Linked DNA regions of Homo sapiens. The protein of the gene in region 1 purifies or fractionates together with the protein of each later gene. This does not show direct contact. Each region holds a gene or a part of one and is shown in the gene's direction. Other genes may lie near its edges. The genes, in order: RNASE13, PPM1A, CACNA2D2 and SUSD1.

What was found.
Region 2: the proteins of RNASE13 (region 1) and PPM1A purify together in Homo sapiens (affinity purification with mass spectrometry; 3 studies listed by BioGRID and IntAct, with this or other methods). This does not show direct contact.
Region 3: the proteins of RNASE13 (region 1) and CACNA2D2 purify together in Homo sapiens (affinity purification with mass spectrometry; 3 studies listed by BioGRID and IntAct, with this or other methods). This does not show direct contact.
Region 4: the proteins of RNASE13 (region 1) and SUSD1 purify together in Homo sapiens (affinity purification with mass spectrometry; 3 studies listed by BioGRID and IntAct, with this or other methods). This does not show direct contact.

Annotation. Positions count from the first base shown.
Region 1 is NC_000014.9:21,031,996-21,039,056, reverse strand, and holds RNASE13 (probable inactive ribonuclease-like protein 13 precursor), read left to right. Parts: upstream 1-4,249; 5' UTR 4,250-4,401; intron 4,402-4,760; 5' UTR 4,761-4,768; coding exon 4,769-5,239; 3' UTR 5,240-6,239; downstream 6,240-7,061. Other genes in the region: TPPP2 (tubulin polymerization-promoting protein family member 2), read right to left, coding at 6,980-7,061. UniProt on the Homo sapiens protein: Does not exhibit any ribonuclease activity.
Region 2 is NC_000014.9:60,286,991-60,294,372, forward strand, and holds part of PPM1A (protein phosphatase 1A), read left to right. Parts: exon of another isoform or gene 1-1,565; intron 1,566-2,815; coding exon 2,816-2,924; intron 2,925-4,406; coding exon 4,407-4,464; intron 4,465-5,462; coding exon 5,463-5,492; 3' UTR 5,493-7,382. UniProt on the Homo sapiens protein: Enzyme with a broad specificity. Negatively regulates TGF-beta signaling through dephosphorylating SMAD2 and SMAD3, resulting in their dissociation from SMAD4, nuclear export of the SMADs and termination of the TGF-beta-mediated signaling.
Region 3 is NC_000003.12:50,500,397-50,508,256, reverse strand, and holds the start of CACNA2D2 (voltage-dependent calcium channel subunit alpha-2/delta-2 isoform b precursor), read left to right. Parts: upstream 1-4,622; 5' UTR 4,623-4,833; coding exon 4,834-5,039; intron 5,040-7,860. UniProt on the Homo sapiens protein: The alpha-2/delta subunit of voltage-dependent calcium channels regulates calcium current density and activation/inactivation kinetics of the calcium channel.
Region 4 is NC_000009.12:112,095,026-112,102,407, reverse strand, and holds part of SUSD1 (sushi domain-containing protein 1 isoform 2 precursor), read left to right. Parts: intron 1-122; coding exon 123-232; intron 233-3,745; coding exon 3,746-3,938; intron 3,939-7,382.

The DNA of each region.
Region 1 (7,061 bases):
GTTCCCTTCCAAGCAAAAGCAGATCCAAGTTCTGTTATCCTAATTTTGTTGGTCCTTTGATAAATAAAGGTAATGGGCTCATTTTTGTAGACTGAGAAAGTGAAACATACAGCAAGTTGAGGTCAGATGTGGGACTTTCTTCAGGTCCTTGAATTCCCATGACCTTTCCTGGAACAGCTGTGGGTCAGGAGGAGGCAGCACTGACAGAAATTTGGAATCCTTGGCTCCCAGACCAATGCGTTTAGACAAGCCAGGATGGAGGAAAGAGGAAACTGATTTGGGGGTTCACTGGGGCCTTGTCTCACAAGCCCTCCCAGCTCCCCATTTATCTACAGAGCAAAGTATCATTTCCTTAGCCTGGTAATCAGGGTCTGTCACAATCGGGCAAACCTGTCTTTCTAACTTTATCTCTGATTTTTCTCCCACTGAGTGCCTCAACCCCAGCCAGACCGGTTTCCCCCCATTTTTCAAGCATGTCTTTCATAATCCTCTTTATCTCCACTGAACTTCTAACTTCACCATGAGATCCATTTCCAAGCCAGGGTGACCCTTCAGGAAAACTTTCTCTGACCCTCCCAATTCAGAGACATCTTTCTCACCTCTAAATTCCTACAGCATTTACTGTCTTCAGAATGTATAATTTTCTGCCTTGAATCACTGGTTATTTCTTCATGTGTATGTATTATTTTTCTCTTAGACTGTCAATTCCCACAAGATGAGGACCACCCGTTACATTTCTTTTGCACATTTCACAGTATATAGCATAATGCCTTGCATATAAGTGACCCTAACTGATTCAACTTTTAGAAGGCATTCCGTCTGCTCCTGAATGATCCCAGTCTGAGGTGGGATTGCCTCCAGCCCACAGAGATGGTTAACAGATGAGGAAGTGACAATGCGGCTTCTAGACTTCAGCCCTGGGTTTGAGGTGATGCTATGAGAAGAAGGTTGAGATGGCTGAGGCAATCCTTCAGGTTCAAGGACAGCCCAGGAACTGTCCATGACACAGTATATTGTTTGAGCAACTTGAATTGGACAGGGCAAAAGATAATGCCAATGAGATCATGGTGAGCCCACTCAGAGCAAAATTTTGGGGTTCTCCTCAGTCATAGGGAGTCACCCTTGCACCTGCCACCCTAGCCAGTTGTTCTATAAATGCTTACCATTGGGGAGGGAAGGGAGAGAATGTGTAAATGATTACATGCAGAGGGTCATCTTTACAGGAAAAACAACTCAGTTATTGTTTCAATGGTGAACTATCAATACACATTTTTCTGGTAGAATCAGCACCATTACAATCAACATTTGTTTAACAAAAATATTTTGATGTCCCAGATGTTTATCATTTTTTTAATACATAAGATACAAGTAAGTCTGCTTTGGTTAAGAAATTTGATTAGCTAATTATTTAGACCAGGGCTTCACAACCTCAGTGTTATTTACATCTTGGTCTGGATAATTCTTTGTTATGGGAGCTGTCCTGTGAAATGTGGGATGTTCAGCAATATCCCTGGCCACAGGCCAGTAGCAACTCCTGGTTGTGACAACCAAAAATGTCTCCAGACATTATCCAATTGTCCCTGGAACTACTGAATTAGACATATGACCTTGAGCAAGCCACTGTCACTCTAGAACTTAGTTTTTCATCCCTAGGGAAATGCTTGTGTATGTAAAACCCGGTGTAATGGGGTAACAATCCCACTAATCTCAGGCTTACGGAGCACATGACACCATGATGAGGTTGTCAGAATGGATGAAGTAATCTTATGCATCAGCACCTCTAGGACAGGATTTTAGGGAACAGATCACCAGGATTGCAGTTGGGAAGCCGAAGGCTCATCATCATTAAATCATTTAAGTCCTGAATGCTTTCCTCTATAATGTGCTGTTCAGTTTCTGTAATTGTGCGGCAGAAGTGAGTGGTGTTGGGTGGGGGGAGCGAAGAGCGGTGATGGGTGGCTGGGGAATGAAGGAAGAGGAAGAACAAAAGGTATAAAAAGTCCCTTTCTATTCTCAGGGAAGCTGCAGCCTTGAGGGACCAGGGAAGAGGTGGCATGATTCAAGGCAGGGACCACAATGTGGTTGGCTTCCTCAAAGCAAAGGCCTGAGTCAGCCAGGCTCAGGCGACACCCTGCATTGGCACCCGCTCAGTGTTGTCTTGTTGAGCAGCCTGAAGAATACAGATGAGCCACCTGCCCATGTGGGCTCTATCCTCACTTGCTTGACGGTGCCCACTTCCTTGGCGAGGTCTTCCCAGCAGAGGCTTTCTAAGTGGGACCTCTGGGTTGAGTCTTTCTATGAGCTAGCACCATGGAATAGATGGGGGCGAGGAACGGTGCAGCAGCAGGGTTCCAGGTAGAGGAGACAGCAGCAGATAGGGCATAGAGGAGGTGGGGGACAAGGTGGGAAGCAGGCAGGGATGCAGATGCAGTTGTACACATGGGCAGGTGCAAGATCATGGGAAGTCTTATGTCCTGTGAGATGTAGTTTGGACTATACCCTACGACAAGCTTGTCCAACCCATGGCCCGCGGGTCACATGTGGCCCAGGATGGCTTTGAATGCAGCCCAACACAAATTCGTAAACTTTCTTAAAACATTATGAATTTTTTTGCATGTTTTAAGCTCATCAGCTATCGTTAGTGATAGTGTATTTTATGTGCGGCCCAAGACAATTCTTCTTCCAATGTGGCCCAGGGAAGCCAAAAGACTGGGCACCCCTACCCTATGAGAAACAAGCTATTGCAGACTTTTAGACGAAAGAAGGGATCACACTTTTTCTCTTGAAGTTGTATAAGAGATATATTTGAGTTGAGTCTTACTGGAGTTGGAGTGTGTGTGCTGTCCAGGCGAGACGAGAGCATCCACTGAGGAAGAAATAAGAATGGAAGAGATGGGCTTGGGAAAAGTTTAAGATTGTCAGGGCTGTGTGACTGATGGACTCAGGCTCATACTGAGGACTCACCATGTGCCGGGCACTGGTCTAAAAACTCTTGATATACATCTTAATGGATCCTCATACTGCCGTGAGGTAAAAAATACTATCCTCATGAACAGATGAAACAAGGAAGCTTTCAGTGGTTTCGTAAACAGATAGATGGTGTGCAGTTTGTAAGCTGCAGAGGCAGGATTCAATTCCTGGTCTGTTTCACTCAAAAGCCTTGATCTTAACCACCATGCAGGACCGCCTCCCCGTAGCTGGGATTGGGGAGGTGGAGGGGTCTAGGATCACTTTCAGGTTTCTTGCATAGGTAACCAGGGAAACTGAGTTGACAAAACAGGAAGAGAAACAAGTTATGGGGAGGATGGATTCCATTTTGGACTGTGGTTTGTGCTGTCAGAAAGTGCCAGTTTAGGGGGCTCTACATGAGGAACACCAATCTTTCTCTCTGCGGCCTTACTCCCTCCTCCTGAGCTATACTGAGGGTGTTGGAGCACTCAGCTTTCTGTGTTCTGACTCCCCTTTTCTGCTGCCCAGCAAAGGTAAAAAGGCTCTCCTAAGAGGAGGCCCCAAATCTGGAAGACACCTTGCAGACTAACAAGGCTGAGTGACCTGTGGAAGTCAAGGGCAAGAGCTAGCAGTTTCCAGGGAGCTGGCTCTTTGATTCTGATGAAAGGGAAGATGTTGATGAAAAAGATAGGAGCGTGGCCCTTTCCCCAGCATGGCAAACCACTCAGAGATCAACCAACAGTACGAAACGGATCATGCCAGGCTCTGGCATCCACAGCTTTTCATGTTCAGGTTATGCTTTCAAATCCAAACTGCCAAGTTTGAGGCTTCAGAGTCAGCATGCAGAGATTTCCAGTAGTGCTCAAACTCTGACAGGGCCTGAGGTCACAGGTGAAGGCTGTGGGTGTGACAGGAGTAAGGCTGATAGGGACCGTGGGGAGTCCACATGGAGGTCTTTGATTCTCAGCCCAGCACTTTGGTGGGAGGCCCCTGAGTACATGCCCTCCTGGGCTCCCGTGAGTGGGATGACAAAGTGGCGAATGCTCTGTTCTCTGAGGGTCAGGAATAAGAAGCACTTTGTTCCTCAGAAACATAACAGTGCTTTCCTACTCACCTTGCCACGAGAGCACAGGCTATGGAACAGAGAAAACATCAAAGAAAGCCCAGGCACTTAGGAACTTTTGGCAAGGAGATTGGAAGTAAGTGTTCCAATGACACTGTAGAGGAGGAGACCAGATAGTAATGCCTCTTTCCTCCCACCCATCCAACCCTCTTAGCACAGGGGCTCATCAAACTCGGGGACATTCCCTCCTCCCAGACTGATTTTTACCTAGAAACCTTTCTAGCCTCTCCTCATCTCTTGACTGTCTTGGCCTTGGCAAGAAGAATACACGTCCCTACCCAGCTATCTTCAGCTCCTGTCCTTCCTCCCAGCTGCCAGAGAATTGTCAGGTCAGCCTGCTCCTTCTTTCTTCTCTGCATTTTTTACTAGCAGGAGTGCCAGGGGCCCAAGGACTCTTGGGAAGAGTCTCTCACCCAAGGACCAGTTAGAGCTCTTATTCTGCAAATGTAGCTCACGGACTCTGCAGAGGCTGAGATTCTGTGGTGGACCAGGGGAGCAGGGCTGGCTGAAGGTGGCTGGTTGTCTGGGTGGCCTTGGGCAAGCATCTCCTCTTTCTGGGTCATGAGAACTTGGTTATGGGTGAGATGATCTCTAAAGTACTGTTGGGTTGGGAATGCTGGAGGCTCTGGGATGTGGCAGACAGCCACTTCAGGCCCACTGCTGCCCCCAACCACCTTAACTCTACCAGCAGGAGGAATGGCACCAGCTGTGACCCGGCTCCTTTTCCTCCAGCTTGTTCTGGGGCCAACTCTGGTCATGGACATCAAGATGCAGATTGGCAGCAGGAACTTCTATACCTTAAGCATTGACTATCCCAGGGTTAACTACCCAAAGGGTTTCCGGGGCTATTGTAATGGTCTGATGTCCTATATGCGAGGCAAGATGCAAAATTCAGATTGCCCAAAGATCCATTATGTGATACATGCCCCTTGGAAGGCCATCCAGAAGTTCTGCAAGTATAGTGACAGCTTCTGTGAGAATTACAATGAATACTGCACACTCACCCAGGATTCCCTCCCCATCACGGTCTGCTCCCTGAGCCACCAACAGCCACCCACTAGCTGCTACTACAATAGCACCCTAACCAACCAGAAGCTCTACCTACTCTGCTCCCGCAAGTATGAAGCTGATCCAATAGGTATCGCTGGTCTCTATTCGGGAATTTAATTCCTGAGCCACTCCCCAACCTCTACCACCACAGGCCAGCTGTCTCCATTTCCAACACTCTGATCCCTGTAACAAGACTTCCTTCCTGACTTACGAGGCAGGCAGGGTCCCCTCCCAAGAGACCAGGTGGGTGCGAAAATGTCCAGGGCTTTGATCACCATGCAAAGTGGTGCTATCTTCTAGGTTCTTTCCAGCTTGTTTACCCCCTCTTCGCCCCCACCTCCTCATCATCCTTCCTCTCCCAGAGACAGTAAAACCCACCCAAGAAGTTGACTGTGTCCAGTTGGCAGTGACTGTCCACCCACTGGGCCAGATCCTAAGTCCTGGATGGAGGCCCAGGGCCTCAGCTCACACCATGGCAACAGGCACCAGCTCCGAGTCTCACCTCCCCATCCCCACCAGCCTTCTCATGTCAGCCTCCCCCAGTTCCCTTATAATTCCCTCCACTCACCCACCTACTCAGGGGATATGGCTAGCTATAGGAACCTCCCTGAGGCCCTCAGACTCATGTTAGCCTCACTTCCCCACAACCCCCAGTTTCCAGCCTGCTTCTCTCTGTGAAATCATGGTTTCTCCCTTCATATAACTGTCCTCTCCTGCTTCCTCTTACCATGGAGCCTAGGACTGTCTCCCCCACACTCCCAACAACCGTAGTCACCCTGCCTTCCTTTTTCCAACCTCTTTTTCTTCCAGTCTTCTTACCTTGGCTCACTGGCATTTCAAGGTATCTTCTCTCACCCATTCCCCAGAGGTTCCTGCTTCCCTTCTCTTCCAGAAGCTCCTCCCAAATCCCCCAGACTCCAGAGTCTGCCCCTGACCAGGCAGCGAATGAGGCAGGCCCGGCTCTAATCGAACATAAATTTCTAAAACCACATCTGAGTATGTAAGATGTAACCATTGGGGGAAACTGGGTGAAGGGCACACGAGCCCCCTCTGTACCATTTTTTGTAACTTCCTGTCAACCCATAATCAATTCAAAATAAAAAGTTAATAACACACATCTGACTCTGTTGTGATTTAATTGCTTTTTCTTCAGTGCACCAGAACTCCTGCTCTTGGAATCCTGGCAGCCTGCCTCATCTGGCCATCTTCCTGAGCTACCCTTAGCAGTCAGTAAGCTCTTCTGTCCCATGTGCCCCATGATGGAGGTGATGTGGGGTAAAACTTAGTTCTGGGCTGGGTGTTGAAAATAGACTCTCCCCTTACCCCAGCTCTGGAACAAATTTGTAATAGAAGTCAGGCAACCTTAGCTGGCTTCTACTCCTCCACCCAAAAAACCTGAATTGCAACAGATGAGGAAGGTGGAGGGACAGGGAAGGATCTAATATGTGATATAGTCATAGTCCATCACGTGAGGAATTGCTACACCCTTTTGAGGGGTGGGGGTGGAGAGGTGGATATCAGTAATGTGTGAACACAAGTAGTAGATACTTTTACCTCCACATCTGGTTCATCTCTTTACTCCAAATATATTCTTCCATCCTGTTCTTGGAAGCAGCTGTTGAGGAGGAATGCTAACTGATGGCTGGTAGGCATAAGGCTAAGCAGAGCGAAGGGTGTGTGGTGGAGAACCCACCCTCCTGTGCTGCCTCTTCTCCCTCTCTCTACACTAGTAGGCTCATCTGTCCCTCACAGACAGAGATTTTGGCTGCTGCACACACAGATGTTTATTGTTTTCCAAGCTCCCTGGTGTTAAACATGCAGGGTCAGGGGGCTAGCAGGCTGAGATGAAGCTCCTCTCTACTTGGTCTTCTTATCGTAGGTGCCAGAACCCTTGTAACCACTCACATAGCCTGTGTTGTCAGTCATCTCTTCCCGTCCC
Region 2 (7,382 bases), about 39 Mb from region 1:
GTTCAAACTATTGATTCATGGGAAAATTTAAATTCATAAGAATAATATGTATAGGGATAAGTTGATATTTAATGTATTGGCACTTTAACTTGGGCAGACATGTTTTCTTATTGGTTTAAAGAAGTAATAAGTATTTTAATATTTTTACTATGAAATGGGATCCAATTTTAGAAATGAATTGCTACTTTTCTCTTTAGTGTGTACACTTTAAGTTTTAGATGGAATTATGAAATATTCACTTTACGTTATTTTGTTACAATAATAAGTTTTATATTTCTTATTATCAAGCAAGAGTTGCCACCTGGACAGAGTTTACATTGATACTCAATATTTTTGATATGTTAAAGTGTTATTATACTTGTACCATTCAATTGGAGATTGTCATAAATTAAATATGGTATTTTTTACTCAGATTTGATGAGACTGCAACTAGAGAATAAATATTACATTAAAATTGCTGCTATTTTAAAACATAGAATGTAACTGTTTGTATTGTAAAAGTTGTGTGTCCTCAGTGAAAAATACTGCCTTCAGCTTCCAAAGCAGGCACCTGAATGCCTTTTTCTTTTCTCTCTCTCTTCTTTCTTTAAATACATGCCTTCACTAGATTGCTGTGACCTACTAAACCTCATTTTATTTGCTTGGAACATTTTTGGCTTCTCTGTCCACACCATAGAAAAGGACAAAGGCCTTCCAGCTCTCCTTTTCTCTTATTTGTTCCCTTCTAAATACTTGACTCTCTGGGGGTGTGAAAAGATTCAGCTCATAATTTATACTACTATTAATTTTGTGGTCCTTCTAAGCCAATTTAAAATTATACTTTTGTGTATATATTTTCAAAATCTTTGCTACTGACTACCTTAGCTTTAAAGTTGCTAATTTGGAGATGACTGATAGAATCCCTGAAACTTGGTGGAGGGGAGTGGAAAGGAGCAGAATGTGTTTGTGTATATGTATGTGAAACATGGATCTTCTATATATAAATATTCTTTAGAAAAAGCGTTCAGTCTTTTTACAATTCTAAGTAAAACGTATAGGTCAACAGAAATTAAAGGAATATTTCTTAAAATTCATTTATTTTTCTTTTTTGAAAGCAGACAGAAGCAAGGCTAGTATAGTATGAATGGTCAGGTAGTTTAAATGCGTTGTCCCACGTGGAACAGGAGATATTAACTGTTTTTAAAGCTTTACATTATTTTTTTACAAGAATTTGTTTTCCTGTAATTTTCTTCACAGTTAAAATATCCTAATTTATATTTTAACAAAAGAGATGTAAGATACATCAAATATAGATGATTCAAGGTAATGTTTTTTAGACCTGAAACTATTGATTCAATTTATCATCAGTGTTTATTTCTATTGTATCTAGTTATCTATCCAAATAATTGTATTGGCTTAGCGGAGACTGTATGTTAAGTGTATTAGTTTTAGATTGTGAAATTGTGCAGTTTAGGTAAACATCAAATCCCTTTATTTTTGTACAGCAGATTTCCAGCATTAGAACCATGTAGAACAAATATACTAGATGTTAAAGATTACACAATAAAGGAACTTGGCAAACCAAATCTGAGATCCTTGCTTTTTGTTCAGATTTAAGACTGTTTTTTTTTTTAAGGCAAAAAATAATAGATGGTAAAAATTTGGCCTTTATTCTAAAAGGACAGTTTGAACCATTTAAAGAAATATTATGGGTAGCCATGTCTTTAAAAATTTTGAGGCCTGATCAAAGGACGAATCTTTATACACATTGTTATTTTCAAAGGTATTTACAAATTGAGAAGCAGAATGATGATTTCTTGCCCCACTAATGACAAATAAAATACCATTTCTTACCATAAACATTGAAAAACAAACTGAACAAAACTTGACCATATAACTTACAAATACTTTTGACTTGAATTTGCATGTGGAGTATGTGTGCTAAAACTGCAAGTGAAGACTTTTTATACTTAGAGGAATAGTTGTAGAGTTCTTTGTAAGGTTCTTTGTTCATAATTTTTTATATTTTGTGATGTGAATAATAGTATGCATCTGCATGACAACACTGCAGATCATATTGCTGTGCCCTTTTAATAACTGGATATTTTAAAATTATTTTAAATGCAGTTGTATGGTTTATCAAATGGTTCTCTTTTTAAACATTTTATAAGGAAATTTAGACCTTTTCTATTCAAGGCTTTGTTGAAGTAATCAGTGAAGGAAATGGTATTATATATCTATACAGTATATTGTTTAAAGGTACTTTAGAGAAGAATTAAACTGAGACAGTGATGTTCAAGTACATAATCTGTGCATGCTATTTAAGTATCATTTTGCAAATATAAATATATACATAAAAATAATTGAGTTAGTATATAATCTATAAATTCCCCTATAATTAAGGGTTGTTATTTTCAAATCTTGAAATTGTTTATTTTTTAAAATTCCACGCAGTGTATTATATAGGGCAAAGTTCAGGAAACATGTTTCCAGTCTAAAGAGAGGAGTGATGTAAGAAGAAACTAGTTGACATCTTAAGAAAGGGTATTCTCACTTGTGCACACATATCCTTGATTATATAATATGCTGATTTAACATGAAATATTTTTTCACATTTTAATTTTGATTTGAAGTTAATCTTATATGTCATTTTGTGCATTTTTTGTCATAAATCTTCAAAGGTCAACCTGATTTTTTTTTTTTTTAAATGATACCAGATTAGAAAAATCTCAGATGTGGTAAATGCCATCTTTAAAAAGCTAGGTTATCTTTGTTTCGGTTTTCTTTTCAATTAAATTTGGATAACACTTACAAAAAAAGTACTTCTGATTCCCAGAAATCATAAAGAAGCAGGGGGAAGGCGTCCCCGACTTAGTCCATGTGATGCGCACATTAGCGAGTGAGAACATCCCCAGCCTCCCACCAGGGGGTGAATTGGCAAGCAAGTAAGTTACATTCTGTACACTCTTATGCTTTATGTCAGTGTATGAAAATGTTAGGTATTCATTGATAAAATGTTTGTTTGCCTAATTTCTGAACTGATGCAGTTATCTGTGTTTTAACCTGTGATTTCAATTTTTTTTTAGTATTAGAATATCTAGAGTTTGTTTAGACATAGGTATCAGTATCATTGTAACTAATTGCAGTGAGGGTTGTCTTTATTGGAAGCTTGGTTGGCATTGATTTCCTCATAGAGCATAAACGAGATAATATACTGAAAGAACTTTTTAAACTAAATTACATAGCACTACATAAAAATTTACAAAATTCTAAGTGTCGTTGTTAGTAGTAGTATAATTTGATTTGGTCAATCCCTGAGTAACTTAACACCCTGAAAATTCCCCTTCCTCATATGGACCATGTTTCTATGCCTGATTTTCCCAGTATTTTTGGTTGTTGATTGCTGGTTAGTTGGTTTTAGGTGTCAGGGAAGAAGATAGAATATATTTCTTGTCTTTTCCCTTTCCACTTTAGTTCATAGAATTGGACTACTTTGTGTTAAATATTAAGCTTACACCTTTACATAATAAAGTGGAAAATTCAAGCAATTCCAAGGGTTAAAACATTTTTACCTCAAATATCCATATAATTGACTTACAAACATAAAACTTGCAAATACCTTTAGCTTGAATTTGGATATAGAGTAAATGTGCTAAAACTACAAGTGAAGACTTCTTGTACTTACAGTGAAGATATATTATTGACTAATTTTCTCGATTCTCTACTGTGTTTTGCAAGTGTGACCATGTTCTTTGTAATCACTAAATAGTGATTGTAAAAGCTCCTGTTTGAAGCTTTTATTTTTTGGAAACTTTTTTTTTCCATATGACTTTCTATGAAACGATCTATAAAATTGCTTCAAGTCAATTTTGGAAGTAGGGAGACTATAACTTATAAATATACTACAGATTTTTAATAAAGTGTTACTCAAAACTAATTCCTAGACTTGTCATGGAAATGTCTTATTTGACATTTCAGTTTTAATAGAACTTTTGAAAAGGGCATTAAGAAAAGTAGAAGCTTAAATATAAAGTATAATCTGAGACTTCAAAACTACGATGCAACTCAACTAGCTTATGTTAGTATTATATCTTAAGAATGGCATTGCCATTGATGACTCATAACCATTTAAACCAATTCAAATGGAAGTAGACTATATAGACTTTTTTTTTAATCTGTAATTTTTAGCCTTCTATTAACTGGGTTGGTAGAGTGTTATAACACATTTTAGAGTAGACTCACCTCTGCTTTAACATAGGAGCCCAAATATCTTAAAAGTGAGGCTCACTATTGACAGCAAGAAATAGAACTAAAATAATATCTGAGTATAAGATTATCTTAGAAATTTTAATAAACACCTGGCTATGAGTTACTAAGCAATGTTTTGCTTTCTGAAGAATTAATTTTCTGCATTTTTTTACACTTAGGAGGAATGTTATTGAAGCCGTTTACAATAGACTGAATCCTTACAAAAATGACGACACTGTAAGTAGCATTTTAGCTCCCTCTGCTTTCCCTTCCCCTCCACTCTAAATGCATATCCTTCCTACCTGTTTTTGCAGAGCTGTTCACTGTACCCATTCTCTTACACACACCCCTGATTGATTGCTCTGAACTCTGCTTGCTCTGATCTCTGCCTGCACCACAGTTCTAGTGATTGAGGACATAATCATGGTGAGTGGCCACCTCTCTCAAAAAAGAAGAAAGTCCTTTTGAATTATTCTAGATTTTTTAAGTCTTTACAAACAATCAACTTCAGAAGGTTTGCCTCCACTACATGGTTTTTTTTTTTTTTTTTTCCCGAAGTTGGGACTATCTCTACTCAGAATATTGTCTTATTCTGAGTTTTGTAAGCAGCTGCAGCAGAACTTCGGAATGTCTGTCTCAACTAAATAGTTCTTATGGTTGGAAATACCTTTGTCAGGAATCCTGAAGTATATACTTCACTTAAATATTAGAGAATTGTTTGCATAAATAGACATTAGAATGCCATACTCTCCAGTTAAGTGTTCTGTTGCAATTCTGTTGTATGATGTTTATAGAAAAGTGATAACTTAAAGATCATGTGGGCACAGCTCTGAAATATTTTATGTATTGCATTATGAAGCTTCCTCACATATTGAGTTCTTAATCTTTTCTGATGCATTAAAGGTTTATAAAAGTGGTATTCTAAAACTGTATTGGATTTCATTAAAAAATTCTTTTTAGTAGATTTATTGATTGAGTAATACATTTGGACAGCCTCATCATAAAACCGCATTTCAAATATTTTCCAAAACAAAACAAAGGATTAACAATTCTTTGAACAGATTAAACATTGCTATTTCATATGTACACATATATACTTATATACTTTAAAAAACATTTATATTCTAAAAGTCATCTTTACAGAACATTATCTTTCTCCATTATCCAGAAAGTATGGTGTATTTTGGCACCGCTAAATTTTAACGTTGTTCCTTATTTTGCTTCCTTTTACAAAGGACTCTACATCAACAGATGATATGTGGTAAAACTGCTCATCTAGCCATGGAGTTTACCTTCACCTCCAAAGGAGAGTACAGCTCAACTTTGTTGAAACTTTTAACATCCATCCTCAACTTTAAGGAAGGGGATATGACATGGGTGAGAATGATTACATCAGAGAACTTCAGCAGTACAACAGCTAGCCCAGAACTGATTTTTTTTTTTTTTTTTGTAAATTTGAGACTTATGTAAGCGTGATTTCAAACCATAATTCGTGTTGTAAATCAGACTCCAGCAATTTTTGTTGTATGATTTTGTTTTTTTGTAAAGTGTAATTGTCCTTGTACAAAATGCTCATATTTAATTATGAACTGCTTTAAATCACTATCAAAGTTACAAGAAATGTTTGGCTTATTGTGTGATGCAACAGATATATAGCCCTTTCAAGTCATGTTGTGTTTGGACTTGGGGTTGGAACAGGGAGAGCAGCAGCCATGTCAGCTACACGCTCAAATGTGCAGATGATTATGGAAAATAACCTCAAAATCTTACAAAGCTGAACATCCAAGGAGTTATTGAAAACTATCTTAAATGTTCTTGGTAGGGGAGTTGGCATTGTTGATAAAGCCAGTCCCTTCATTTAACTGTCTTTCAGGATGTTCCTTCGTTGTTTCCATGAGTATTGCAGGTAATAATACAGTGTATTCATAAGAATCTCAATCTTGGGGCTAAATGCCTTGTTTCTTTGCACCTCTTTTCAAGTCCTTACATTTAATTACTAATTGATAAGCAGCAGCTTCCTACATATAGTAGGAAACTGCCACATTTTTGCTATCATGATTGGCTGGGCCTGCTGCTGTTCCTAGTAAGATATTCTGAATTCCATTTTATCAATAAAGCTTGATTTAACAAACAAGAAACTTAATCATGTATGTGTAATTCCTCTTTTACCCTGGCCTTTTAAAACACTGTGCCGTTGTAATGAGACGTTTCTCATAGGGAAAGATGTTAGTCTCTTTTAATTGGACAACACTGTCACTCAAGGCATAGATGAAACTTTCCTTCCATTAGAAAGACTAAAAGATTTAATTCTTGGTTGTACCTTAATCTATTTTTTAAATAGGTTTCTTTCAGGCTGCTTATTTTTCATTAAGATGTGTATCAGCTTGGATTTGCCTACTGTTTAATTAAAATATTTATTGTCAAAGTTTGACAATCTAACACTCTATGGTAGGGGTGTGTGTGTGTGTGTTTGTGAGTGTGTGTTTGCCTGTGATTTTTAATTGGCCCATGTCTTTAGAATCCAAGTGGTTAAGATGTATTTGTGATTTGAAATATAGCATGTTGATAATATTTAGCTGTTGGCCTTTACAAATAACTTTCAAAGCTTAAGGAATTGTAGATATAAAAATAACCTAATTTAATTTAGGCTTAAATTCCTCTGATTAAGCATGTGAAAGTAAGTTTTAAAATCTGTCGCATTGAAAAGATTACTGTTCCGTGCCCTTCTGTATTTTTGTCTCTTTAGGTTGAATATTGTATTTATCACCATGTAATCATTCAGTAGGCAGATTCCCACTAGAAAACTGTTGAAATGTAAGACTAAAATACAACATTGAATACAAAATCAAAATTTTGTGTATAAAAACCAGTATAGTCCATTTTGTTATATTTGTTTTTTCCCTAACTTGGAAATATACATATTTGTATATATAGCCTTAAAATTAATGTAAAGTTAGGGGAGTAGTGGGGAAAGTAATGTGAAATGTCTCAGATTTAAGTAGTTAAATACCAGCAAAATCTTTTCATTATCCCTCTTATTTTGTGAGGTGATTAAATGTAACTTAATTGTATTTAATTTATATCTTATTCCAGCATGAATGAGGAAAAACTGAAGTACTATTTATATTTAGAAATTCATATCAGTTGAAATTACA
Region 3 (7,860 bases), on another chromosome or scaffold:
CAATGTCTGAAAGGGTTAAACTCCAGCCCCCTCCATATATTATGGTAAATGGTACTAAACTGACCATCGGTTGATATTGCGCCAAGGATCCTTGAAAAATTATTGACGTGTCCAGAGGTAGGGTCCTGTCTGATTGCATCTGGAGGCCACTGAGCATCTGTACCATGCTCAGACAGGGGCATTTTGGGGAACATTGCATCCCTGGGTATCCCCAAGGAACTGATGAGCGAGCCATGGCAGCCACTGGCAGGTGCAAGTGCTGGTAGTCCCCCATACGTGGAATGAATCCCAGCTGGGGGCCCTTGGGGACCAACAAGTCCAGCACAAAGCAGGCAGAGAATAGGTACCTTAGAGTGGGCTGGATGAGGCAGGGACAGCAGAACACTGGCCAAGGCTGGGGCCAGCTCAACGGACCCAGGTGGAGGCAGAGCTGGGTAAACAGGGCTCAGAAGGGAAAATGTTGGCTCAAGTCATGCTCACCCAAAAGAATGTCCCCTCCTCCTCTCCCTAATGTGCCCATCCCAACCTATTCAACTTGCAAGACTGAGCTGAAATCCCTCCCCCTTTTCCAGGAATATTTCCCTGTCTGCCTGCATACACGGCCTGCCCTTCTTGGGGATGGCTGAGTCTGTTGTCTCCCCTTCGCTAAGCCCTTGCTGAAGTACCAAGTCTTCCCTCAGGGTGTTAGATGCTTTGGGTCTTCAGACCATCCCTGCCACATGGGGGTGTCTCCCACTATATGGATGAAGAAATGGGCTTGCAGAGGCAAAATCACTTGCTTACACAACCTGTGATGTCTGATGTCAAAGCTGACACACCTCATGCCCAGGCCAGACCACCCTTCCTGGGCACATCCCTGGGCTCCCTTGACATGCCATCAAATGATTCTTTGTTTTTGTTTGTTTGTTTTGAGACAAAGTCTTGCTCTGTCACCCAGGCTGGAGTGCAATGGTGCGATCTCGGCTCATGGTAACCTCCATCTCCCAAGTTCAAGCGATTCTCATGCCTCAGCCTCCTGAGCAGCTGGGACTACAGGCGCCGGCCACCACAGCTGGCTAATTTTTTTTTTTTTTTTTTGTATTTTTGGTAGAGATGGAGTTTCGTTATGTTGGCCAGGCTGCTCTTGAACTCCTGACCTCAGGTGATCCACCCACCTCGGCTTCCCATAATGCTAGGGATTACAGGCATGAGCCACCATGCCTGGCCCCAAATGACTCTATATGTTAATACTTCCTGTGCCCTCCCATGGCTAAGCACTGCATGAGGCTTGGAAGGGGTGACAAGGACTAGGGAGCCTCAGGGCTCCGCTCGACAAGAGTCCAGAATGGGCTGGGCGTGGTGGCTCATGCCTGTAATCCCAGCACTTTGGGAGGCCAAGGCGGGCGGATCATGAAGTCAGGAGTTCAAGACCATCTTGGCCAAGATGGCGAAACCCCGTCTCTACTGAAAATACAAAAATTAGCTGGGTGCGGTGGCACGTGCCTGTAATCCCAGTTACTGAGGAGGCTGAGGCAGGAGAATCACTTGAACCAGGGAGTTGGAGGTTGCAGTGAGCCGAGATCATGCCATTGCACTTCAGCCTGGCGACAGAGTGAGACACTGTCTCAAAAAAAAGAGGCCAGAGTGCAGGTGTGTTTCTGAACCCAAGGCAGAGGCCACAGCATACTACTGGCCGGGGCAGGAAGCAGGAGGGACAGGACCAAGAGGAGGAGGCCCATCCAGTTGGGGGTGGTAGTACCCCAGGAAGGCTTCCTGGTATAAGTGGTATTAATGGGCTCATAAATATCTTGAGTTCAAATGGTAGAGGTAAAAGAGGGTGTTCCAGGCAGGAGGAACTGCAGGAGTAAAGCCCGAGGCAGGAGTTTTCTCTGAATAAGGAGCTGTCCAGCCTGTTGGTAAAAGGTGAGACTGGGCGCGGGGCAGGCTAGGGTGAAAATCTTGCCACCACAGGCGTCCTGGATGTTCCTGATGGGCTTCCTCTGAAAGGGCCACAAGCTGTGGAGTCAAGGTTGACACCAGCCCCAGTATTCTCCCCACAGCAGGGAAGAGCCAGGGGCCTCCAGGACAGAAAGGACTAGGGTGTGCAGAGATGACCTTCCTGGCTCTGGAAGAATCTAAATAGAGGCTGTGCAAACCCCGGGAGCTGGGGCTTGGGACGGGCCTCGAGTGGCACAACTGAGCCCATGGCCTGCTTGGCACATAGTAGTTTCTCCCTATGGCTCTATCAGTCTCTTCTGACCTGCTGAGCTGACCTCCCATGCAGAACTGGCACCTACCAGGCCCCCTGTCAGGGTAGCTTCACCTGCCCCTGCCACCCTACGTCTTCCAGCACAGGCAACTTGGGCCAGGTGGGCAGCCCCACATTTACCAATGTGCCTGCCATGGAAGTCCCCCTATTCCTTGGGAAGGCTCAAATTTTTCTCCCAAGATCTTAACGTGTGGCTGTAGCCAGCCACCAAGAGGGCTGAGGATGTTGTAAGCCTCAAAAGTTATAATTCGTAAACACTTACCACTTGTTTACTCTTAATTACCCCCCCCCTCCTTATTTGTCTTCCTTTAACGGCCTGTCAACCAAAATCTCCCGCCTTTCCCTTGGTGCCAGCAGCCTCAATTAGATGCACATCTGTGGAGGCTAGAACTGAAATACCCAACTGCCAAAACCCACCCACTGTACCTAGACTGACTTCATGTGCCTGACGGCCTGGGCACTTTGGGGATAGCGTTGCTACCCTGGTGTTGGAGGGCAGGGAGGCTGGCCCTCACATTTCTCAGGCCACTGCAGAGTCTGCCTTGGGAAGGCGCCCACCCCCGACAGGGCACCCAAGAGGAATGATGTCCTTTATGATGGTCCCCTGGGGCCATGGGCACAGGTATTATATGTCCAGCAAACAGGTAAGAGAGGATATCACAGGCCAGCCCTACCTTGGGCATGAGGAAGACAGAGATGCTGGGAACAGGTCTCAGCAGGCAGGGCTGGGAAGGCAGCTGTTGAGCTCACGCTTGTCGACTCCTGAGCAGGACCCCTGCCCCCCTGCCCTCCCATTGTGTCCAGAGGTGGCAGGGGGGCAACTGGCTCAGTGAGGACCCTGCTTGTCCCCCCAAAGAGCTGGACTATCGTCTCCCATAGTCCATCAGGTCCCACCTGTCCACCAGGCCCCTGGCCCCTGCGTTGCCTTCCTCTGATACTTTTTTTGGGGTCTCATGGTTTGGGATCTGCTGGCAAACCTGTCTGGCCCCTGAAGGCTCATTCAGGTCAAGGGAGGAGGACACTTCAAGAAATGAAGGAAACTGTTCCCTGTCAAGCCCTGGTTTGCTGGGATTGGAGAAGCCAAGGCAGGACTAGGCAGCAAGGGAAGGCTGTCCTAGGCCCTATTTCCAGCCCCTACCCCTACCCTTTTCAGTCCAGGGGCTACTATTCCCTTTCAACTGCAAGCCCTCCTTGGGCTGACTTGTGAGTGGGTGATAGGAGAGCCACTGATACCATGAGGTGGGGCATCTGGACATTTCCGAACCATCCTGCCCAGCTGGTTACTATCCCTCATTCCTCGTGATAGGCCAGGTCTGTGGGCAGTTATTGCTGAGGGGGTCCTGCCCTGTGTCAAGTTGGTGGGGAGCATTCTCTCATCCTATCTGCACCAGAGGCAGAGCTGGGTTCCAGGGTAACTTCAGTAGAATCCTAGGGATGGTCTCCCCTCATTGTGAATGCTTCAGTTTACCAAGAGATTCTCCCCATTCTCACTTCATCCTGGAAATGGGAGTGGGCACCCACACAAGCATTCACAAGCGAGGACACTGAGGCTCTGAAAGGGCCACAAGCTGTGGAGTCAAGGTTGACACCAGCCCCAGTCTTCTGCCCACAGCAGGGAAGAGCCAGGGGCCTCCAGGACAGAAAGGACTGGGTTGTGCAGAGATGAGCTTCCTGGCTCTGGAAGAATCTAAACAGAGGCTGTGCAAACTCCGGGAACTGGGGCTTGGGACAGGCCTGCACACAGTGCCTGTTCAGCCCAGGGAAGCGAAGCGAGTGGCTGCAGAGGGCTGCATCCTGCCGTCCCCAGCCCCCCACAACCGTACAGCCGTGCCCAGGTTTCCGCTTAGGGAACCAGGAGGTCCAGGCCCTTTCTGCCAGCAGCCGGGCGTGCAAGCCCCCGACAGAGAGAAATCTTAAAGATAGCTAGAGCCACGGGGGCTGTAAGTTCAGCATGCCTCCTTTTCTGGTCTCCGCTGAAGCTGTCACTCCACCATTAAACCTGTGACTCTAGGCCTTAAGCCTGTTGAAGGTCGAGCCCCCAAAAGGGTCACATATGCTCCTGCCTTGGGCCGCGGGGCCCGGGACTCTTCCCGCGGGTGGGGTGGGGAGGAGCGGCAGGGTCTGAGGTGTGGGGGCGGGGGCGCACCCGGGGCGCTCGGGTAGCAGCTGGGGCGCAGGACGCCCGAGCCAGTAGGGCAGGATTCGGGCTGCGCGGGGACGAGAGGCGCGCGGGCACGGGTGGGCGCGTGGCCGCGGCGGGGGCGCGCGGGGGCGGGCCAGCCCGGGAAGAGAGAGGGAGGGAGGGAGAGAAGAGGGCGGTGCCGGCAGGTTGGCGGCGGCTGCTATTTGAGCGCAGGTCCCGGGCCGGGCGCTCAGAGCGCTTGGAGCCAGCGCTGCAGGGAGATAGCAGCGCGCAGCCCGCAGAGGCGCTGCGGCCCGTGCAGCCCCGGAGGCCCCTCGCGGAGAAGGCGGCGGCGGAGGAGAGGCCGAGTTACCGCCCGCCGCCCGCGCCCCCCCAACCCCGCCGCCGCCGCCGCCGCCGCCACTGCCCCCCCTCCCCGCGGCGCCGCATCTTGAATGGAAACATGGCGGTGCCGGCTCGGACCTGCGGCGCCTCTCGGCCCGGCCCAGCGCGGACTGCGCGCCCCTGGCCCGGCTGCGGCCCCCACCCTGGCCCCGGCACCCGGCGCCCGACGTCCGGGCCCCCGCGCCCGCTGTGGCTGCTGCTGCCGCTTCTACCGCTGCTCGCCGCCCCCGGCGCCTCTGCCTACAGCTTCCCCCAGCAGCACACGTAAGTGGCCTCGGCCGGCCGCGAGACCCCGGCCGAGCCTTGCGCCCCGCTCTGCCCCCGGTCCGCGCTACTCCTTCCCTGCGCTCCGCGCCAGGGCAGAGGCGCTGGGTCCGGCTGCCCGCTGCGCCCGGGGGCGACGGCCCCAAGCCCCGAAGGCTGGCAGCCGCGGTCCCGGCGCTCTGGCTGCGTCGCGAAACTTCCCCGCGGTGCCCCTGCTTCCCCCAAATCCCCCGAATGAGGCAAGGCAAGATCTTCAAGCCCCGGGAGGAGTTGGGGGGGGGCGGTCCGAGCTTGTCAGCTGATTCCCCTGCCGCTGACCCGGTGAGAGGGAAACCCGGGTTGGGTGAGAGGGGCGGCCAGCGACCCCTGTCCGGCGGAGTTGGAGCCGCGCATCTGCCCCACGTTCCCTCCCTGGTGGGAATCCGGCGCTTTACAGCCAGAGGTGAGGGACATCTCCACACCTGCCTTCAAGGGCCTTTTCCTTTAGTGGGGAGCTGTATGCTGATGATGCGAGCACCTTCTTGCTGTGGCCAGTGCCACAGAGGCAGTGTCCCCTGTTCTTGGCCCCCCTCCACCTGAGGAGAGAGTACCCTGGAGAGCCCAGTTGGGAGGTGAAGGCGTTGGGGTCCGGGCAGAAGGTGAATGGTGGGAAGGACCCCTGCCTGCGCCTGCTGCTGCTGCCAACAGAGTAATAGCTTCTCCTGGCTCTGCCAGCCTCCGCAGGTTTTTTGGTCCTTCTGAGCCTTCTCCTCCTCCCCAAGAGCCAGCAAACTCGGGCTGCCTCCTACGGGTGAGCTTAGCCAGATGTGTCTGGGGCTGGGAGTGGATGTTCAGTGCATGTGGCCTTTAGGACGTATCAGTTTCCTGACACTGTGCTTCAGCCCTATGTCAGTGCCCAGACCCCCTTTGGGGCACGGTGACCACCTTGCTTCTGTTATCTGTCTCCGGGTCTGAGGAGCCACCTGTCCCTGGACTCCTTCACCAGTGTCCTGGCCTGGAGACTGGGGCATGAGTCGTCGGGCTGCTGGTGGCCAAGGGGAAGGGTCTGGCCTCGGGGAAAGGGAGAGGCTGGCTCTGCGTCATTTAAACCAGCTCTGCCCAAGGGTAAGAGCCCCTGGTTCTGCCACAAAACCTGCCGACTCCAGTTCGTAGGCTCTCTAAGATGAGGGAAAAACAAACTCAGGAAAACCGCCTCTCTGGGTCTCTCTCTCCGTCTTGTCGTCTCTCTCATTGCACAGCCTGGCTGTGCTCAGGCAGGTGATCAGTTGGCAAATTACAAGTGCCGCACGGACGTGTCCTCTGTCAACCGTCTGGATTTTTCACATGTGTGTTTGGGGGTTGCCCAGGGAGAAAAGAATCGAATGGAAGTTCAGGGCTGGTGGATGCGTTATTGTCTTTCATTTGCCGTGATGGAAATGGACTTCAATCATAGTGCTTAAAAAAAGCAAAAGCATTATTTTTTTGTTGTTCTTTCTTCCTCAAAGCCAAGCACGAGCCAAGCCACAATTATTTTTTTCTTAGCCGTTTCATAGCTCCTTGAGTGAAGGTTTAAGTGGATGTCTCTTTCCACCTCTCCCGACCTCACTCCCTTTCCCTGCAACGTGCAGTTGGTCAGATGGCTTCTGGGCCTGCACGAGTCTCCTCTAGAAGGCCGATGTGAGAACCTGACCAGAGTAGGCACCTATCCCTCTGTCCCCAGCCAGAAGATGGCGAGGCGGGTGTGACGGCAGCGACACACTTCCAGCTGGACGCTGTTGTCGATATAGTTGGAGCTAATTTGGGGGTTTGGGACATGTCTTGCAAACTGTAATTAGAGAATGAGGGTGGGGGTGGGGTGGGGGCTGTGCCGCTCTGAGGGTCCAGGGGGAGGTGACTAATGGTACAACAACACAGAGGGTTTGCTGTGACAGCCAGTGCCCTTCAGCTGCCCTGGTCCCGCAGACGAGGATGCACATTGATCCTTGGAGGGAGGAAGGGGCCCACACATGACCATGGCCAGTGGAATTGGTGCTTTTGTTGAACTGGTAAGAAAGGTTTAGGCTGTTGTTCGGGCCAGAAGGTTCTGTGGGGCTGCTCAGGGATGGGTGACCTCCCAGAACCTTCTGCTGGGTCAGTGTGGCCAGGCTGGGATGACACTTTGATACAGGTGGATTTCCAAGGAGGAGAGTGGAACCCAGCTTCATGGCACTGGAGTGACAACCCCTCAGTGGGGAAGGCCCCTGATGAGCAAGTCATTTTCTCATTAGTGTCTGCCAGTGCACAGGGGCCCAGCTTCACAAGCTGCTGGATTTTAAGCAAGTGTGGGTTTGGGGTCTGCTAGCTATGATTTCTGCAATCGCTCTGGCAGCATGGCTCTCTGCCCACCAGGCAAAATGGACCAAGGCTGCTGCTGGATTGAGAAGGGCAGAGGGGTTACTGCTGAAGGGAGGACAGGGCTTCAGGGTTTTTTTTTGGGCGGGGGGTGGGGGGGTTGGGCTGTCTCACCTTACCTGGACCTGGATCAGAGTTTCAAACAAGGAGGAGGCTACATGTTTGCACACATGTATGCACATGTATGTGCACTTGTCCGGCTGGGTGTGGGGGACCTGAGTCCGAGCACACCTTTCACCTGCCTCCTTTTTCCAGTTATGCCCTCCCCAGCATCAGGCCACCACCGCCGGCTGAGGGGCAGCCCTCACTGCTTTGCCTCCCCTTGTGTCTTTCCCTCCCTCTTCCCCTGTCCCCCTTCTTCAGGTCTTTCATCGAGCTGTACCTATCCTTCCCTGCCCGCCTCTTTTGTCCTCTCTGCTGGGCCTCTGTGCCCTGTTCTCCAGTGCCCCCA
Region 4 (7,382 bases), on another chromosome or scaffold:
TATTATTCCTGTTAAACACCCAATTGGCTCTCTTAAGGTGTCAGAGTTTCACTTGTACTCAGCCATGATGCATTTTGCTAAGATGGTGCAAGCTGTCTATAACTCTCTCTCTTGTCTTTTAGAAGTTGATCTCTTAGAAGATGATGGAAGTTTCAATATTTCAATATTTAATGAAACTTGTTTGAAATTGAACAGGCGTTCTAGGAAAGTTGGATCAGAACACATGTACCAAGTAAGGAGATCTCTTATGCTTTCCATTAAAGAATTGTGTCATTTAAAAATTTGGGCGATCTCCAAGTAAGTATCCAAAGTATTTAAAAATGAATGAACTTCTAGACAGTTTGTGATTGTTGTTTCTAGAGATGGATGTAAGATGTGAGATGGGTGTAAATGAGGTACTAACTTGAAGAAAGATACTATATTTGGTGACTTGCTATCATTTTCTGTGCCTGGCATTTCAAGCTTATATTTTATTTTAATGCATTAAACAATACAGCTTATTTTGCTATCAGATTCACATTTGGGCATGGAATTTATTTTTATTTTTTATTTTTATTTTTTGAGACTGAGTTTCGCTCTTGTTGCCCAGGCTGGAGTGCAGTGGCATGATCTCGGCTCACTGCAATCTCTGCCTCCGGGGTTCAAGCGATTCTCTTGCGTCAGCCTTCCTGAGTAGCTGGGATTGCAGGCATGAGCCACCACGCCCAGCTAATTTTGTATTTTTAGTAGAGATGGGGTTTCTCCATGTTGGTCAGGCTGGTCTCAAACTCCCAGCCTCAGATGATCTGCCCTCCTCGGCCTCCCAAAGTGCTAGGATTACAGGCGTGAGCCACCACGCCCAGCTGGGCATGGAATTTTAAGGAACTCTTTGGATGGCTATTGACCCTCATTTAACTTGATTTTTTCTTAAACATCATCAGTAAAATTGTAAGTAAATTCAGGCAGGAACTGAGATTTATTTTGTGTCATTTTTAGTGCCTAGCAAGTCATCTGGTAGAGAGCAAACTCAGTAAGTATTACATTAAAAAAATTTTTTTTTCTTTTTTGAGACCGAGTCTTGCTCTGTTACCCAGGTTGGAGTGCAGGGAGGCGATCTTGGCTCACTGCGACCTCCACCTTCCAAATTCAAGCGACTCTCGTGCCTCAGCCTCCCAAGTAGCTGAGATTATAGGTGTGCACCACTATGCCCTGCTGATTTTTGTATTTTTATTAGAGATGTCGTGTCACCATATTGGCTAGGCTGGTCTCAAACTCCTGACCTCAAGTGATCCACCCGCCTCAGCTTCCCTAGGTGCTGGGATTACAGGTGTGAGCCACCGCGCCCAGGCCAAAATTAATTAATTTATTCTATTTACCAGAAGTATATCACATATTAGGACTTGGAAGTTTCCAATTCAAACTGATAGAAATATATAGGTAAATAGGCAACTACAATATGGTATAATGAGTGCTTTGACAAAAAGTAAATTAATAATGGAATAATAAAAGTAAATAAGTATAAAAATAGAGATTTTATTTGTGTGTGTGTGTGTGTGTGTGTGTGTGTGTGTCCAGGTACAATTTTTTTGTTTTTTTTGAGATGGAGTCTTGCTCTGTCGTCCAGGCTGGAGTACAGTGGCATGATCTTGGCTCACTGCAGCCTCCCTCTCCCAGGTTCAAGCAATTCTCCTGCCTCAGCCTCCCTAGTAGCTGGGATTCCAGGCATGCCCCACCATGCCCAGCTAATTTTTGTATTTTTGGTAAAGATGGGGTTTTGCCATGTTGGCCAGGCTGGTCTCAAACACCTGACCTCAGGTGATCCAGCTGCCTTGGCTTCCCAAAGTGCTGGGATTACAGGTGTGAGCTACTTGCCAGGCCAGGTACAATTTTTTTAACCAGAAGCAAAGACTGTTATACTGAGTCATAGAAAGTAAGTAGGAATTGGCCAGGCGTGGTGGCTCACGCCTGTAATCCCAGCACTCTGGGAGGCCAAGGCGGGTGGATCACGAGGTCAGGAGATCGAGACCATCCTGGCTAACACGGTGAAACCCCATCTCTACTAAAAATACAAAAAATTAGCCAGGCGTGGTGGCGGGCACCTGTAGTCCCAGCTACTTGGGAGGCTGAGGCAGGAGAATGGTGTAAACCTGGGAGGTGGAGCTTGCAGTGAGCCAAGATCGCACCACTGTACTCCAGCCTGGGCGACAGAGCAAGACTCCGTCTAAAAAAACAACAACAAAAAAATTAGATAAAGGTTAATTTGTGTGACATGTGAAACACTTTTAAATTGACTGGAAAAAAGTCAATATTTAAAAGCGGTTTGCTAAAGAAAATAGACGTATTGCCTAAACACGCATGAACACATTATGCCTCACTAGTAAGTGGTCCAGAAGAATAGGGGACTGCCAGACCGTGGAGGAGCAGCTCTGACGATAGCATAGTCTAGGTTGTGGCCATGGATATGGGTGGCCAAAGTGGAGTGAAGGAAGTTCATAGCATTGAGCTCAAAGAACTCTGAGGCCAACATTTGATGGTTTATCTGTAAGGACCTTTAAGTTATCCAAGAGAATTCAAAGAGTTTGAGAGAGAAGAATCCTTATGAACCACCTGTCAGGGTCTTGGATGACTGTCAAAATTGATAAGAGAAGAGTTAGTGATTGATGGGAATAAGGAGGGATTGAGGGTGGTATAGACAATGGTGCTAGCATCAGTGGCAACACCGAGCATATGTCTCCACCAGCTAATGCACCCTAACTGATCAAGGGCTGATCATATTACTTATAGGACCTTCACGAAAGTTTTTTCCCTATAATTCCCTGCTGGAGCTGGCAGTGCGTAGAGGATGGTTAGGTGACAGTGTGTGATATGACTCCATGGATCAAAAGCCCTTTTACCAGAGGTCTAATAGGAAGGGTCCAGTGAAGTACCATGGCATTTGCTTTGAATGCATAATCTGGGGTGGTCCCCATATGTTTTTGTTTTTTTTTTCTTCCATGGGTAGGGTTAAGGAACCCACCTAGTTTAAGTACTCTGTTCTATGAGGCTTGTCCATGGATTTCTTACAATGAAAAGAAACTAAAAGAATTTTGGTTGGGTGCAATGGCTCACACTTGTAATCCCAGCACTTTGGGAGGCTGAGGTGGGCTTGAGGCCAAGAGTTTGAGACCAGCCTGGGCAACAAAGTAAGATCCTGTCTTTACAAATTAATTGTAAAAATAATTACCCAGGTGTGGTGGTGCATGCCTGTAGTTCCAACTACTCGGGAGGCTGAGGATCACTTCAGTCCAGGAGTTTGAGATTGCTGTGAACTAAGATTGTGCCACTGCACTCCAGCCTGGGTGACAGAACAAGACCCTGTCTCAGAAAAGAGACAGAGAGAGAGAGAGAGAGAGAGAGAGAGAGAGAGAGAGAGAACGAAGTATTCAGAAGGGAAGGAGGAAAAAAAATAATTTTGCCCATTAGCTCCAATGTAATCTCTTTCACTTGCGTTATAATCAAGGGATTATTTTGGAATAGACTAATATTTTCTTCATCTGAGATGTAGTTATGCATATTAAGCTTGGTCCTATACCTGATTGTGAGGACAGGTAAGGTAGCTTTGTCAAGTCCTTCCTCAGGTTAGCTTGCTATTGTCTTAAAAGTAATTCTAAGTGGGCAAGGATAAATAAAAGGAACTTTCTTGTTTTAACTCCATTTTGCTAATAGTCTAGGCACCTGTTAGTCAATGGAAAATCTAATGTAACACTTTCTTTTAATCTCATGACAGTTTACCGTTCTGGGTCAGAGGTGGTATCTGGCTAACTTTTCTCATGCAACATCGTTTAACTTCACAACGAGGGAACAAGTGCCTGTAGTGTGTTTGGATCTGTACCCTACGACTGATTATACGGTGAATGTGACCCTGCTGAGATCTCCTAAGCGGCACTCAGTGCAAATAACAATAGCAACTCCCCCAGCAGGTGGGTGTAGACGTCTTTCTTTTTTGTGCCTCAGGACAAATTACCTATGTGAATTGAGCAGTGTGGGCGGGCATAAGAGTGCTAGTTTGGGAGTCAAGAGACAGGGGTTCCAGTTCTAACAAACTTTGTTAGCTGCGTCTGGGGTTCAGGATGCCTGAATCTTACCACTTATCCCCTTCCCTGAAGGGTACTGGCTCATAGAGGGCACAGACCAAGGATAGACTGATTTATTCAGAGCTCCCTGGGAGTCCTAAGTTGAGAATTCCATAAAGCATTTTATCTCTCACCCCAAATTTAAGACAACTGAACCCTAAGGGTATTCATTATCGGCAAGTAGAACGAACTTCCAGGAGACCAGAAACGTGGGTCCCACAGTGTCAGGCACTGGCAGGCAATACAGCCTCAGGACTAGGCCACGCATAAGCAAATTAACTTGACATAGAGAACAGAGGCCTGATTAAGGTCAGGCTCCTTAGAAATTCTTCCCTTGCAGTCTTTTGAGGAAGCCACATAGGTGCCAGCTGTATTAACTCCACAGCTCCCCCTAGTGGGATGGCTGTGGTGCAGCCATCACTACTATTTCTTTTGTTCTTTAATCCTGTGGGTTTATCAGACAAATTTACGGGCAACCAGAAGAGGCTACCCCTTTGAAGGAAAGCAGCAGAAGAGGGTAGGTCCTGCTGCTACCTCCCTGAAGCCGCTCTGTGATATTCACCTCTGCTCTTTGTGGGTCAGGGTGGGCAGTTTGGCCTTTGCATTTAGAAGACTCTGGGCCGGGTGCGGTGGCTCACGACTGTAATCCCAGCACTTTGGGAGGCCGAGGCTGGCAGATCACCTGAGGTCAGGAGTTCGAGACTAGCCTGGCTAACATGATGAAACCCTGATTCTACCAAAAATACAAAAAATTAGCTGGGCATGGTGGTGTGTGCCTGTAATCCCAGCTACTCGGGAGGCTGAGGCAAGAGAATCACTGAACCCGGGAGGCAGAGGTTGCAGTGAGCCGAGATTGCGCCATTGCACTCTAGCTTGGGCAACAAGAGCCAAACTCCATCTCAAAAAAAAAAAAAAAAAAAAGACTCTGAAATGTGTTAGACACTCATGAGAGCCACGTAGCACCTGAGGCTGAAAATTAATTTTTTTTTTTTGAGATGGAGTCTCGCTCTGTCACCCAGGCTGGAGGGCCAGGTGCCATCTTGGCTCACTGTAACCTCCACCTCCTGGGCTCAAGTGATCCTCCTGCCTCAGCCTCTTGAGTAGCTGGGACTACAGGCGCATACCACCATGCCCAGCTAATTTTTGTATTTTTAGTAGATACAGGGTTTCACCATGTTGGCCAGGCTGTTCTCGAACTCCTGACCTCAAGTGAGGTCTTCCAATTCAGCCTCCCAAAGTGCTGGGATTACAAGTGTGAGCCACCGTGTCTGGCTTCAGTTTTTATCCTATTTTTTTTATCAGATTGAGCCTGGCACCTTGTCCTGTCTGTATCAGCAGAGTTTGCACAAGGAGCACCTCATGACATCATAAACCTACCCCCCAACACATTTTCAGCTGCATAGTAATGCTCGCAAATTGAATATGAATTCCCTCCAATTATTAAATTCTTAGAGAAATAAAAATCTATAAATAAAATCTAGCTGGGTGCAGTAGCTCACGTCTAATTCCAGCACTATGGGAGGCCAAGGCGGGTGGATTGCTTGAGCTCAGGAGTTTGAGACCAGCCTGGGCAACATAGTGAAACTCTGTCTCTATAAACAATACAAAAATTAGCTGGGTGTGGTGGCATAAGCCTGTGGTCCCAGCTACTTGGGAGGCTGAGGTGGGAGAATCTCTTGAGTCTAGGAGGTTGAGGCTGCAGGGAGCCGAGATTGCGCCACTGCACTTCAGCCTGGGCAATAGAGCAAGATCTCCTCAGATAAAGAAATAAGAATAAATAAATCCACCTCTCCTTGTAAAATAAACTAAAATGTAAAGGCATGAAGTCCCCAGTTTTTTCTATCCTACATCTTTTCTGCTGAGTCTTGGCCAGAGTGTCCTGCTGAGTGGAGAGTGTGTTCTAGCTGTTGAAACCTAGGAATCTTGTTTTGTAATAGATGCTACTCCTTTGGTGTATAGGAGACTGGCAAATGCTGAGGTTTTGAGGCAGGCACATACTTGGCATATTCTAGGAATGTCATGGAAACCAGTATGGCTGGAGCAGAGAGCTGGGGACAGTGGTGAGAGATGAGGTCTAAACTCTAGCATGAGTATAATAAATGAGAGGCCCATGGTGTCAGGTTCAGAAAGAAGCCTGTTGTTACCTTCTCCTTTGCCTCCCTAAATTACTAGTAGTAAGTATAATGTAGCATGCCATAGTTCAGCCTCTGTAGGTTACCAAGCAGTCTGGAGTCTACCACGTGTCAATTTAAACTTAAATTGGGAAATGTCTTCTCGTCAGGGTAGTTGGATTCATTTTGACACTGTACTCTCCTTGAAAATTTTAGACATTTGCAGTGGTGGCTCTAGGTCTTTCTTGATGCCCGTTCCAAAGATTAAAACCTTTCCATTTTCGTTGCTCCCTTGAGCCCTATTTCTACCCAAGCTTCACCATTGCTGAAGATCTTTATCTGTTTAGTGAAAGAGTCTCCCTTCTTTCTGGGCAGGACACCCCACATTTATCTTAGGAAACTCTTCAAGTGAAATGCATCATCTTGCATGCTTCCTTCCCTGTCTCCATTTCTGACTCTTTTCTCTGAATTTCTCTAAACCCAGAAAGATCCCCCAAATTGTTTTAGTTCTGGACTCCACAGGCTCCTATTATTGAATGTCTGCCTGTGAGTCCTACTTCCTGGTTAGGAGATTTTCCCTTTTGTCTCCCATGGGGAATTACCCTCAGCTGATCTGTGAGCTGCTGTTGGGTTTCCAGAACCTGAACTTTCACTGGTCTGATGAGGTCCAGGAAACCCCCTGGGCTAGTGGCATTTCGCCCAAGCCCTACCTTCTTGGAATTGAATTTCCAAGACTTAAATGGTCGGTGCTTCTTTGATGGAAACTGAAACACTTCTTGCTCCCGCTTCCTTTTCTGTATCAGAGAGATAAGCCTGCAATGTTCAAGGTCCCTCTGAGAACGTTCTTACTTAGCAGGTCCTGCTCAGCTCTAAGCCTTTACCCTTCCATTTAAGTTGTTTCTGTTCCGTCTTTATTGCCAGGTAGGACTCATACCTTTTGCTAGGTCTTAGTACTTTTCCTTCTCTATATTTGCTTTTTGTTTTCAGACTTAGATTTTTGTTCTCCTCACATATTACTTTGGAATCTGCCTCCGAGGTCTCTGTAGAGAAAGAATGATGTCACAGAGCTCTCGACCTGCCATAAACATCCAGTGTTAAAATACCTTCTTCCCACTTTCATTTTCACTAGGAGGCATTTCTTTCTATTCAGTTCGGCCTAAACCCAGGCCTGGGCTTTATC